Linked DNA regions of Homo sapiens. The protein of the gene in region 1 purifies or fractionates together with the protein of each later gene. This does not show direct contact. Each region holds a gene or a part of one and is shown in the gene's direction. Other genes may lie near its edges.

The links. Proteins that work in one complex are often made in the same cells at the same time.
Region 2: the proteins of PACRG (region 1) and KLHL36 purify together in Homo sapiens (affinity purification with mass spectrometry; 3 studies listed by BioGRID and IntAct, with this or other methods). This does not show direct contact.

Annotation. Positions count from the first base shown.
Region 1 is NC_000006.12:162,730,969-162,738,001, forward strand, and holds part of PACRG (parkin coregulated gene protein), read left to right. Parts: intron 1-7,033. UniProt on the Homo sapiens protein: Microtubule inner protein (MIP) part of the dynein-decorated doublet microtubules (DMTs) in cilia axoneme, which is required for motile cilia beating. Suppresses cell death induced by accumulation of unfolded Pael receptor (Pael-R, a substrate of Parkin).
Region 2 is NC_000016.10:84,651,495-84,658,527, forward strand, and holds part of KLHL36 (kelch-like protein 36), read left to right. Parts: intron 1-5,376; coding exon 5,377-6,450; intron 6,451-7,033.

The DNA of each region.
Region 1 (7,033 bases):
CTGTGCTGAACAAGCTTATCACGAAGCAAGTTAGAAAATCGACCCAGGGTTATGGTGACAGAGAAGTTGAGTTCAGCCTAAGCTTTCTATTACAGCTTTCCTTCTCAAAAGACTATAGATGCTTTATGCTCAAAGTTTAGGGGAATGGAATAAATAATTTTTTTAATATTAAAGGTTGAGTATTCCTATTCCAAAAGTCTGAAACCTGAAGTGGTCCAAAATACAAAACTTTTTGAGTGTTGACATTACACTCAAAGAAAACTCTTTTGAGCATTTTGGATTTCAGATTTTCAGAACTGGCGTGACCATCAGTATATAATACAGATATAGTCAGCTCTTTGTACAGATTCTGCCTCCATGGATTCAACTAACCTTGGATTGAAATGTTTGGGATAAAAATTTTATCTGTATTGAACATGTACAGACTTTTTTTTTTGAGTCATTATTCCCTAAACAATAGAGCATAGCAACTATTTATGGAGCATTTATATTGTTTTAGATATTATAAGTAATATAGACATGATTTAAAGTATATAGGTAGAAATGTGTAGGTTACATACAAATACTACGCCATGTTATATCAGGGACTTGAGCATCTGAAGATTTTGGTATCTGCAGGAGGTCCTGGAAACAATTCCTCATGGAGACTGAGGGATGACTGTATTCCAAATTTGAACAAAAAACAAAAACAAATCCAAAACACTTCTGGTCCCAAGCATTTCAGATAAGGGATAGTTCAACCTATACTTTACATGTATAGTGTGTTTTATATTTACCAATCATGTGCTCATTTAACACGTAGTGGTAATCATCAATATTTATAAATTATATATTAAAATATTAATTTGGCTTCTGTAACACTGACCAAATAACAATAGCTTAATTAAGATGGAAGTTGTTTCTCTCATAATAGAAGTTCAATTTTGTAGGCAATCCCAGGAGGTTGGGCAGCATTCCCCATGAGGCAGGTGCAGGGGCATAGGAGCATGTTTGTTCTTTGCATCCTGTAAAATGACACCTGAGACAAGGGGGGCTCGAGACCACCAGGGTCAAATACCTGCCCTCAAGAAGGAGGAAAGTGGAAGCAGAGAGCTTCCCATTATGTGCATGACCCAGACACAGCACCCCACTTTCATTCTCATCCAACTGGCCAGAACCTAGTAATAAATACACCTACATTTTCCCTTTTTGCAAAAGCCTATGAAAGCTTGACCCATGAAGCAACTCCCAAGCCCACGTACCTGTCTCCTCAGGAAAAGGATGAAGGAAGCTATGTAGTTCCAAAAGGGCATCATCTCCAACACCTACTTCAGGTGGAGGAGAGAAAAATGGGTATGGAGCAATCTGCAAGAATGAGGCAGGAAGAAATGAAGAGCAAACAGCTTCACTATGAGGGCATGTCCCAGAAACAGCAATCCTCACTCCTGCTCAAATCCATTGCCAAAACCTAGTCTTATGGCCACAGCTAGTTGCAAGAGAGGCTGGGACATGTAGTCTTTAACTGGTAGCTCTGTGTCCGGCTCAAACTCACAATGTTTTATTACTGTAGCCAAGGAATATTGGGGGATAATTAGAAGTGTCTAGCTCCAGTGCTAAATGTGCTACATTATTAGTGAAGAAAAGGAGAGAGACAAGTAAAATAATTACAATACAAATAAACAGATGTCTCTGGCAGAGAAGTACTAATGATGAAGGGACCAAGTGGCGATGAACTAATGGGTGCCCTCATCACCTTTTGTCTAGGCTTGTACAATATCATCCACCTATCAATTGGTTGACTCCCTCAATCAATTATCAGTACAATTACACTAATCTTTCTGGTACAATGTTCTGCTCCTATCACTATTCAGAGCTTTTGGAGCTTCCCAATTCTTATAGAAAAAAAGTCAAGATACTTCCCCAGGGCCAGCAAGGTCTTGTGTGATCTAATCCCATTCTGTGTTCTAAAATTTCATCTCCCACTGTTCTCATTTGCTTCAGTCAATCTGAACCAAGGAAATAAACTCATATTCTTTATTTTTGTGTTTCTGTTTATGTTGTTCCCTTTGCTCGAACACCCTTCTCCCTACATATCTGCATATACAAATTCATTCTATCATCAGGTAACACATATCTATTGATCACAGACTATGTGCAAAGCACTGTTTTAAATGCTAGGAATTTAGCAGTCAGCAAAAGACAGAACACATGCTGTCAAGAAGCTTATATTTTTGTGGCCAGCAAAATGCCAACTGCTTTAAGAAGACTTCTTTAATTCTCCCTTCCTGTCACCCACATAGAAAGTTATCCTTTATTCATTGTGTTCTACTTTGTATTATGGTCATTTCTGCTCATGTTTTATCTCCTTATGTAAATTCTCCGTGAGGGCAGTATCCACATCTAAGTCACTTTTTAATCTTAACCAGAACCTAACAGTGTATTCAATAAATATTTGATGAATGAAGGAAAGCAATTCTACCCTTTCTTCTTATCTCATATTCTCCTACTTTCTTATTATAATTGTTATTTGTCTCTATTTTGAATTTTTTTAAGCCATCCTCTCTAATTGTGGAGCCCAGAAGCTCCCTTTAAAACTTGAGAAGGCCGAATCATGGCATTCGTCACCTCAACCCCTCAGGTGGCTCCCTGCCTCACTCAGAGTAAAAGCTAAGCTTCCTCTATTGGGAAGGCCCTGTGTGATCTGCCCACCCTTGCTGCTTTATGCAACTCTGCTGGCCCTGCCTCCGGAACTCAGTTAGTGCCACGCCTTTGCCCTTCCTGTTTCCTCTGCCTGAAATGCATTTTACCCTGTGTGTCCTCATCTCTTGATGCTTCAAATTTCTGTTTAAAAATTAGCTATTTAGTGAGCCTCTTCCTGACCACTCTATTTTAAACTTCAGACCCTTAACAATCCCTTCCATCCCTGCTCCAGCACTCCCATCTCCCTTCCCTGTTTTATATTTTTCCCTCTAATATTAATTTAGTTGAGCCTGTGTTTTTCTTCTACCAGAGAGTAAGCCCCAGAAGGGCAGGAATTTGTTTATTTCACCCATTGCTGCATCCTCACCTCAAGAAAAATTTATGGCACATAGTAGCTGCCATTTATCTTATTTTGATCAGTTGAATTAATGAAAGACTATATTTTATACTATAATTAGACAATCATCTTCAAATCAGTGGCTCCAAAGAAAATGCCAATGATGTTATATAGATATTAAATCTAGAAATGAGAATAATTTGCAGCTGTTTTATGCAGTATCATAAAAGTTACACATGTTCATTGAAAAAAGTTAAAGTGGTTTGGCTTAGAAAAGCTTTTTCCTGTCTAAGATGATGAGAAAAAATTCAGTCTTTTTTTCCTGGATTCTGTTTTACTTTTAATTTTTTATTTTGAAAGTTTGCTTCACCTTAAGTCATTTTGATTTTGGAAGGTATAAATTTTGACTTATTTTCCCTAAATGGCCAGAGAATTGTTACATTACCCTTTATATACTTAAATTAAATTATATCAAACATCTTCCTATCAAATTTAGGAATTCCTATCCAATTTAAATAATATATCAGTGCTGTTTTTATTATTTCAAGTAACTTTATTAATAATTGATTACTTAATGTCATATATTTATTCTTTCATATATAATAGGGCTAGTGATCTTCATTCCATTTGGCTTTTCCAACCAATCTTATGAAAAGGCAGAGTAGACTGTGTTTTTCCACTTAATGTATAAATCTCAAACAATTTACTATTTTGTGGTTGTTTAGAGATACTTATTAAAGGATAGAGCAAGGACTGGAACCTAGATTTCTAGGTTTTTCTTACAACAGTTCTCTCACATATTGTAAGTGAATCACTTGGTGAATATCAAACCAAACACACTGATACAACCAACACCCAAATCCAGAAACATTGTCAACACCACAGAACCCCATCTGTCTCTTTGTAGTCACTACCCAACATTCCCACATGCTAACCTTCTTCTGACTTTGGCCAACAGACTAGTTTCACCTGTTTTTGTACTTCTATACATGGAATCATAAAGTATGTAATTGTTTTGTGTCCAGTTTCTTTCATCAACATTCTGTTTGTGAGATTCACCCACATTATTGCATACAACTATAGTTGTAAGTAAATCCTTCATGTTTATCCCTGTCTAGTATTTTCTTGGATATACCATAATTTATTTATCCATCGCTTCCTCGATGGGTATTTGTGTGACCTCCAATTTAGAACTGTTACAAATAGCACTGCTAGGAAAATTTTTACACTTTTTTTGGAGAAAGTATCTACGCATGACCAAGGACATATTTCTGGGAGTGGAATTGCTGGACCCTAAGTCATGCTTGTTTGGCTTTAGTAACTAAACTAAAGCTGTTTTCCCAACTGATTTTTCAAATTTAAACTCTTTCCAGTGCTATATGAGAGTGCTGTTTGTGCTACAGTCTCACCAATAATTAATATTTTCTTTATTTTGCATTTTAAGTATTCCAGTAGGTATGTAATGTTATATCCTTGTCATTTGAATATTAATTTTATTGTGACTAATGAAGTTAACAACTTCTTCATATATTTACTGTCCATTTGGATATACTCTTTATTGAAGTGTCTTTTTAAGACTTTTGACTGTTTTTCTCTTGGCTTGATTTGGTTTTTTATTTATTTGTAGTACTTTTTTCCATCTATATTCTAAATGATATGAGGCACTTGTCTAGTATTGTATGTATTGCAACTACAGTTACCCACTCTGTGAGTTTCCTTTCCATTCTCAATAATGGCTTTTATTGCTCTTTTTAAAGTTACATACTTTGTGAAGAAAAATGTTTACCTCAAACATACTTGTGTATTTCTTCATAATGTTTCCTCAACCAGTTTCAACTAGCTCACAGTGAAATACATATACATTAAGACACATGACTTGGAAAATAAATTGGAGCGATTGGAAATGAAATAGAATAAACAACAGAGAAATAATAAAATAAAGTGTAATTAAAGTAGAAAGCTTGGGCTCAAGAAAAGAAGCATCAATTTTGTCATTCATAAGAGTCAGTATATTTATCAATGGATGTTCAAATTTAATTCTGAGCTTCTTGGCATCTGTTGCTGAAAGGAGAACATTATACACATCTCATTATCACAAAAGGAGAAGCCCATCAATCCCTATAGGGAACTGAAGCTTTCTCTACACTGAACTCTCTGAGAAATTGGTCATGTCACATTTTAAATACATGCAACATACCATATCTACATTTTTATCTTTTGCAAGAAATGCAGTGAAAATATCATCCACAAAAGATTTCAGTGAGAGCTAAGTACACGTTATTAAAATGTATCTTGGCAAATTGGATTTTGCCTGATATTAAATTGTTGTAGTACATGTACGTAGACTTTCGGTGGTCCAATTTGATCTGGAAATGGAATTTACAGTGCTCACAGAAATGTGTAGATTGTATATATTTTAGTTATTGTTCTCAGTTCATTTCATGATGGGAGCAAGATAGCTGCGTTTTTGTAGTTGGCAGGGAGAAAATGTGTAATATGATAAGAGCACAGAGCTGAACGACCTGAGAGGGTCTGAGTCCAGGAAAGTTTCCTGAAGGGAATCATGTTTGGTGAAATATAACAGTTGAGAAGGACCTAGGGGAGTGTGCAAAGGCTGAGAGAGACCAGGCTCCCAGCTACTGTGGTTTTCAATCTTATTTTCTGCCTTTTTTTTTTTGCCATAAATAATTATGTTGTAAGTTCTATTCATTATATACATGTTAAAAATTATTTAGATTGCATATATATTTTATATATTTTGAGAGCATATAGAGTGTATATACCTACCTGTATGTTTGTATAGATTGCAATGTACATAATTATAATACCTTATATGGAATTTTATGGATTCCTTCTAATATGCTAATATTTTACATGTTGTTGAAAGCTCATAAGCATTTAAAAGGCTTCATAAAATTCTATGCTTTGAATTTGTCATAATTTACTTTGTCTTTCACTTAGGTTGTTTTCAAGTATTTACTATTAGTGTATACATAGGGTTGAAATTAGTATCTTTCTATAAAAAGTTTTTTCTGTATTTTACAGTATTTCCTTGAAATACAATTTCTGAAGTAGATGTACTGGGTCAGAGAGCTTATCAATCTTAAAACCCCAATCAAGGTTTTATTAATACTGCCACCTGCTGTGCTTGAATGTGCCTATTCTAGCTCCTCCTGTGGCCTGCCTAAGGGGCTTTTGACTTCCCGGACCTTGCCTGCTGTCTACCTCCTCATCTGCCAGTGTTGAGGGTCAGGATCTCAGCACCTCTGAAACCTATTCATGATACAAATGAGGGGGTTGCAAACATCTAAGGCTGTAGTTCTCAGATTGCAAATTGTAATCACTTGAAAGATTCCCATTTAATTCTTCTAAGTGTTCTGGGGTTGATTTAATTAGTCTTTAATTAGGGGTTGAGAACATCTGGGTACATAGTATGATGGGGAAGATCTCAGAAAACTATTTTCTAGATGGCTACTCAATTTTCCCAAAGACATTTATTATGTAATATTTTATTCCCCATTGCTTTGTGTGTTCTTTTTCTTTTTGTGTGTTTCATAATTCTACATAATAGAGATATTTGAGAGGAATTTTTAACGAATGTCCACAGTTTTAATTATTGTGGTAATTAAACCACAACTTGGTAATATGTTTTAGAAATTGGTGGGGCTAATTTATCCTGTTAATTCCCAGAATGTTTATTTTAAATTTTAACATTTTACCGGTTTAATCTTCCAAATGACCTTTTAATAAGATGTAAAGTCGAACATCATTTTGAGTTGGAAATGATCATATAACTCACTAGCAAATAATGATCATTGTATAACAGTCTTCACTTATAGTAATATAATTTATCATTCCATGCTTATAGGTATACATTTTCCTAATAAATATTTTTATATTTATTTTATACCAAGCCATCTCACTAACCAATGTTTTCACTGAATTGCATGTATTTTATTTTAATCATGTTCTTCTACATTTTGAAAAATTTAAATCTACAAATAAATATAGAAATAG
Region 2 (7,033 bases), on another chromosome or scaffold:
CCCGGCTGCTATACTTTCCACAAACTCCTGTCCCCACAGCTGCTGTTGGTAAAGAGTGGGGGAGCCATTGGTATGAGGTTCCTGGTAACCTGTTTCCCCGTTATAAATATTCGTAATGCCCTCTGTTCTTTAGAGGTATCCCTTTTGGAGATTAAATCTTATGGTTACCTCAGATCATGGATTCTCAATGAGTATGATATTGCCCTGAAGTGGGAGAAAATTGGTTCTCGGGAGGGTGGAAGGAATTTTACTCCTTTTATGCATAAGACACAATTATACATACAGTACATGAGCAGACATACAGTGCATCTGTGATGTTAAGATTTTGCTGGGGAGGCTATTAGGGAAAAAAATCTTAAAAGCCTTCTTGTGGGGCAATAATGAAAAAAGATACAGAAACACTTCTTTAGATGAAGGGAGCTGGCAGCAGCCTATAGAGTTGAGAAAAAGGGGGAAAGAGATTCTACAGATTCTAAAAGAAAAACTGGCTGTCATTTTCAAGAGAGGTTGGCTCTCTTGAGATATGACCTCCTGTTCTCACGTGAGTTCCCCAAGAAGGTTCCTGCCAAGCCCAGCTTTATCGATTGTGAAAACCCAGAGAGGTCTCGCCGCTCGCTCACAAGGGCTTTGTTTGGGAGCTTAGCTTGGGAGACACTGCTGCTTTCTAAGTTTGACAGCACTGGAAGTCTTTGTCCATTAATGCCAGGACCCTGAGTTTGTTTCTGTCTGAACTGAATCTCTTAGGACTAGGCTTCTGTATCACTGGATGATGTTTCTAACTTTTTTTTTTTTTCGAGACAGGGTCTTGCTCTGTCACTTAGGTTGGAGTACAGTGGTGCGATCATAGCTCACTGCAGCCTCTACCTCCTGGGCTCAAGTGAGCCTCCCACCTCAGCCTCCTGAGGAGCTGGGAATACAGGTGCATGCCACCATGCCCAGCTAATTTTTGTATTTTTAGTAGAGACGGGGTTTCACCATGTTGGCCAGGATGGTCTTGATCTCTTGACCTCGTGACCCGCCAGCCTTGGCCTCCCAAAGTGCTGGGATTACAGGCGCGAGCCACCATGACTGGCCTGTTTCTAACTTTTTATTTTTAAAAAGTGTACCCATTAATTTCTAGACATTAAACACACCTATGTTGCCAGCACCCAGATGGGTAAAAAACAGAATACTACCAAACCCTCCCAGTTGTTACACTCAAGATAGTCGCTGTCCCAACCCCACCGCTGTGGTTTGATCTGCTTTTGAACTTTGTCTAAACGGGATCCGAGGTCGGGTACTCTTGTGTGTGGTTTCTTTTGTGCAACATTGTGCCTCTGAGCCTCACCCGTGTTGCTGCATGTAGTTGGTAGTGGTAGGTTTTGCTTTCTCAGCATGTTGGTGTCTTCCCACTGTGTGGCCACAGTGTCTGTTCACCTGTCTGCCCTAAGATGTGTTGCTCAGCCAGGCACAGTGGCTCACGCCTGTAATCCCAGCACCCTGGGAGGCCGAGGCGGGAGGATCTCGTAAGCTCGGAGTTTGAGACCAGCTTGGACAACACGGCTAAACCTCATCTCTACAAAAGATACAAAAATTAGCCGAGCCTGGTGGCATACACCTGTAGTCCCAGCTCCTCAGGAGGCCGAGGTGGGAGGCTCACTTGAGCCCAGGAGGTAGAGGTTGCAGTGAGCTATGATCGCACCACTGTACTCCAACCTAAGTGACAGAGCGAGACCCTGTCTCAAAAAAAAAAAGTGTTGTTCCTTTTTGATGCTAAATTCTTTTTCCACGTCTAATACCTGGTACCTGCCGCCTCCTCCCAGGTGTAAGCCCCCGACAACCTGAGTTTCTCCCTCTACTTGGCCTTGCATCTGATTAAGGCACTGAAATAGGAAATAAAGAAATGAACAAGACTCATATCATCAGAGAATGCTGTGGATTGGAGCTTCTAAGTTACCTGAAATGCGGAAACTCTGTTACCAATGTCCCTTTATAATTGGGAAATAGGCCAGGCGCAGTGGCTCACGCCTGGAATCCTAGAACTTTGGGAGGCTGAGGTGGATGGATCACTTGAAGTCAGGAGTTCGAGGCCAACATGGTGAAACCCCGTCTCTACTGATATATGTATATATGCCGGGAGTGGTGGCACCTGAGGTCAGGAGTTTAAGACCAGCCTGGCCAAAATGGCAAAACCCTGTCTCTACTAAAAAGACAAAATTAGCTGGGCATGGTGGTACATGCCGGTAGTCCCAGCTACTCAGGAGGCTGAGGCAGGAGAATCGCCTGAACCTGGGAGGCGGAGGTTGCAGTGAGCCGAGATCGAGCCACTGCACTCCAGCCTGGGCAACAGAGGGAGGCTCTGTATCCAAAAAAAAAAAAAAAAAAAGGGAACTCGTGTGCCTGTGTTTTTGGAAAGTTGTCTATGCAGCTGTGCTAAAACACCAGAAGCAGATTGCAGCTGATTGTACCCGGGTACAGCATCACTCCAGCCCACTTAGAGCAGAAACCCAGTTTTGGAAACAACACTGCTCTTGCCCCCTGCCCCAGCTCACTGGAGCTGGTGTCTCCCCTCGGCAGCCGTTCACTGGGGCTTTCCCCAGTCCTGCCCCCTGGGCTCTTTCCCTTTTGACACTGCAGTCTGGGGTTGTGTGTATCTCCGTCTAAGCATGGTAGGGCCAGCACCCTCACCAGCGTGGAGACAGCCAGGGTCCCCGGGTGGCAGATAGCCGCCTCATGCCCTCATATGCGTCTCTCAGGCCGCTAAGCCTGTACTATGACTTGATCACCGCCACTGTAGTACTTTTTAATTTCCTTCCTTCAGCTCACACCCAAGAGGGGCCTCCAGTCAATGTCTGTAGAAGCACTGACCATTCCTGCATAATTAGAAGCTGAGGCCTAGCACGGTGGCTTATACCTGTAATCCCAGCACATTGGGAGGCTGAGGCAGGAGGATCGTTTGAACTCAGGAGCTGAAGACCAGCCTGGGCAATGTAGTGAGACCCCATTTCTACAAAAAATAAAAGTAAAAAATAGCTGGATATGGTGGCACACACCTGTAGTCCCAGCTGCCAAGGAAGCTGAAGTGGAGGGATTGCTTGAGACTAGTTTTGTTTTGTTTTGTTTTGTTTTGTTTTGTTTTGTTTTGTTTTGTTTTGTTTTGTTTTTGAGATGGCGTTTTGTTCGTGTTGCCCAGGCTGGAGTGCAGTGGCTCACTGCAACCTCCGCCTCCGGAGTGCAAGTGATTCTCCTGCGTCAGCCTCCTGAGTAGCTAGGATGACAGGCGCCCGCCACCACAACCAGCTAATTTTGTATTTTTACTAGAGACGGGGTTTCACCATGTTGGTCAGGCTGGTCTCGAACTCCTGACCTCAGGTGACCTGCCCACCTCGGCCTCCCAAAGTACTGGGATTCCAGGCATGAGCCACCACGCCCGGCTGAGCCTAGGAGTTTCAGGCCGCAGTGATCTCTGATCTACTGTTGCATGCCAGCCTGGGAAACAGAGCAAGACCCTGTTTCTAAAAATGAGAAAAAATTTAAAAGCCCGGTGTAGGCCAGCCTGGCTCTCTTTGTGGGTAACCAGGATAAATAGAGATCTCCACGTGTGTGACCTGTGAACTGAAAAGCCAGCCTGGAATGGAAGAGCGGGAGAGCCCGTCCTCTGAACTCAGAAGGAAATGCCAAGTCGGATCTGTCTGGCATCCTCCACAGGCTGTGAGAATGTGGCCTGCTCCTGTAGCATGGACAGAGAAGTTGCTGTTGGAATTGACTGGATGTGGAAATACCACAGGGAAATAAAGTGTCTCAATGACAAACGCATGTATGGCAACAAAAAGAAGATTTGAAAGGGAAGAAAAAAATAAAACCCACTGCTGTAGGACACATGTTAAGAAGCAACTTTTAAGAATTCAGAGCCTGGGCAGTTTAGGGAGACGTTGTCCCTGCAAATTATAAAAATCAGACAGGCGTGGTAGCGTGTGCCTGTAGTCCCAGTTACTCAGGAGGCTAAGGCGGAAGAATCACTTGAGCCCAGGAGGTCAAGGGCGACATAGTGAGACCTCGTCTCTACAAAAAAATTTTAAAATTAGCCAGGCATGGTGGCACACACCCGTAGTCCCAGCTACTCAGGAGGCTGAGGTGGGAGAATCACTTGAGCCCAGGAGGTCAAGGGTGCAGTGAGCCGAGATTGTGCCACTGCACTCCAGCCTGGGCAACAGAGTGAGACCCTGTCTCAAAAAAAAAAAAAAAAAAGTCGAACCACATAGCTGCTAATACCTAATAGCCCTCGGTCAGTTTTCTTCCTCCAACCACATTTCCCCTCTTCAGGCTAGTGCCCAGCCAGTTCTTCACCTCAGTCACCCTGGAATAGACCAGCTATCTATGTGATAGTTTTCAGTTACCTGTTTCTCCCTATGTTGAATTCATTTATTTATTTATTTAGAGACAGGGTTTCTTTTTGTCGTCCAGGCTGGAGTGCAGTGGCACAATCATGGCTCACTGCAGCCTCAAGCTCCTGGGCTTGAGCGATCCTCCTGCCTCAGCCTCCTGAGCAGCTGGGACTACAGGCGAATGCCACCACGCCCACCTAATTTTTAAATATTTTGTTAAGACAGGAATCTCGCTATGTTGCCCAGGTTGGTCTCGAACTTCCTGGCCTCAAGTGATTCTCCCGTCTCAGTCTCACAAAGCATTGAGATTACAGGCATGAGCCACCATGCCTGGCTTGAATTGTTGTGTTGTTTGGTTTTGGGTTTTTTTGGTTTGTTTTTTGTTTTTTCTTGTTTGTTTTGTTTTGTTTGTTTGTTTTTTGTTTTTTGAGACGGAGTTCTTGCTCTGTCTCCCAGGCTGGAGTGTAGTGGTGTGCTCTTGGCTCACTGCAACCTCCATCTCCTGGGTTCAAGCAATTCTCCTGCCTCAGCCTCCTGAGTAGCTAGGATTACAGGCACACGCCACCATGCCTGGCTAAATTTTGTATTTTTAGTAGAGACAGGGTTTCACCATGTTGGCCAGGCTGCTCTCAAACTCCAGTAGCCGGGCTGTCGTCCCAGCTACTCAGGAGGCTGAGGCAGGAGAATCACTTGAACCCGGGAGGCAGAGGTTGCAGTGAGCTGAGGTTGTGCCACTGCACTCCAGCCTGGGCGACAGAGCAAGGCTCTGTGTCAAAAAAAAAAAAAGAAAGAAAGAAAGAAAGAAGTTATATTAATAAGAGAAGGAAAAAAAAAACCACGATACACAGGCATACTCAGAAACACCTGTACTTCCTGCAGTGCCCTCTGATGCAGCATTTTATTTCCTGTTTTCTTCAGTTTCATTTTGTTGAAAATGCTGGTCAGGACCCACTGGGTTGGACCAGGGCCGAGCAGGCTGCTGCGCCGTTTCTAATGTGTCTTCTCTGTCCAGGTATACCGCTGGGCCGACCACTCAAGCACGGTGCTGCAGCGGCTGAACGAGCAGCGTCTCCGCGGGCTCTTCTGCGACGTCGTCCTGGTGGCCGATGAGCAGCGTGTGCCAGCCCATCGCAACCTGCTGGCCGTGTGCAGCGACTACTTCAACTCCATGTTCACCATCGGCATGCGGGAAGCTTTCCAGAAGGAGGTGGAGCTGATCGGCGCCTCCTACATTGGGCTCAAGGCCGTGGTGGACTTCCTGTACGGCGGGGAGCTGGTGCTGGATGGCGGCAACATTGACTACGTCCTGGAGACGGCTCACCTGCTGCAGATCTGGACGGTGGTAGACTTCTGCTGTGAGTACCTGGAGCAGGAGGTGAGCGAGGACAACTACCTGTACCTGCAGGAGCTGGCCTCCATCTACAGCCTCAAGCGGCTTGATGCCTTCATCGATGGCTTCATCCTGAACCACTTCGGCACGCTGTCCTTTACGCCCGACTTCCTGCAGAACGTCTCCATGCAGAAGCTGTGTGTCTACCTGAGCAGCAGCGAGGTGCAGCGGGAGTGTGAGCACGACCTCCTGCAGGCCGCCCTGCAGTGGCTGACGCAGCAGCCCGAGCGCGAGGCCCACGCCCGCCAGGTGCTGGAGAACATCCACTTCCCGCTCATCCCCAAGAACGACCTGCTGCACCGCGTCAAGCCGGCCGTGTGCTCGCTGCTGCCCAAGGAGGCCAACTGCGAGGGCTTCATCGAGGAGGCCGTGCGCTACCACAACAACCTGGCGGCCCAGCCCGTCATGCAGACCAAGCGCACGGCGCTGCGCACCAACCAGGAGCGCCTGCTGTTTGTGGGCGGCGAGGTCTCCGAGCGGTGTCTGGAGCTCAGTGACGACACCTGCTACCTGGACGCCAAGAGCGAGCAGTGGGTCAAAGAGACGCCGCTGCCCGCCCGGCGGAGCCACCACTGTGTCGCGGTGCTGGGGGGCTTCATCTTCATCGCCGGCGGCAGCTTCTCACGGGACAACGGAGGGGATGCGGCCTCCAATCTTCTTTATAGGTATGACCCCCGCTGTAAACAGTGGATCAAGGTGAGATTAAAGCCAGATTATTTCTTTTCTCTTGAGGACTCTCTCGGTTTCCTTAACCTAGCCTTGACTTTCCTTACCTCTCTGGGGCCTTGACAACTATCCTGCTTCTGAATGAGGTGTGATGATAAAGTGACGAGCAGAATACCCCGGGGCCTACATCCTGGACAGGGAGAGGGAGAGCCGACCCACCCCTTCGAGGGGTCCGTCATCGTTCAGAGCAGCACTGCCTGGCGGGGCTTTCTGTGCAGATGGAAGGGTCTGTCTGTACTTCCCGATACGGTAGCCACAGCCGCATGTGGCGACTGAGCACTTGAAATGTGGCCAGTGCGACTGAAGAAGTCAATTTTCAATTTTATTTCACTTTAACCGATTGACGTGTAAGTGTATGTGGCCGCACGAGGCGTGGCTACCCTATTGGACAGTAGCATGGGTCTAGATGTTTGATCCATGGTTCAACATCCCCAGGTCCTGGAGTCTCTGTGGGGCTCCTCTGGAAGCATTTTGGGAGATAGTTTAAGGAGACCACTAGTGCTCACGCCTGGCCCTTGGGCATGTATTGTGTCCTGATTCTGGGAAGAGCGTG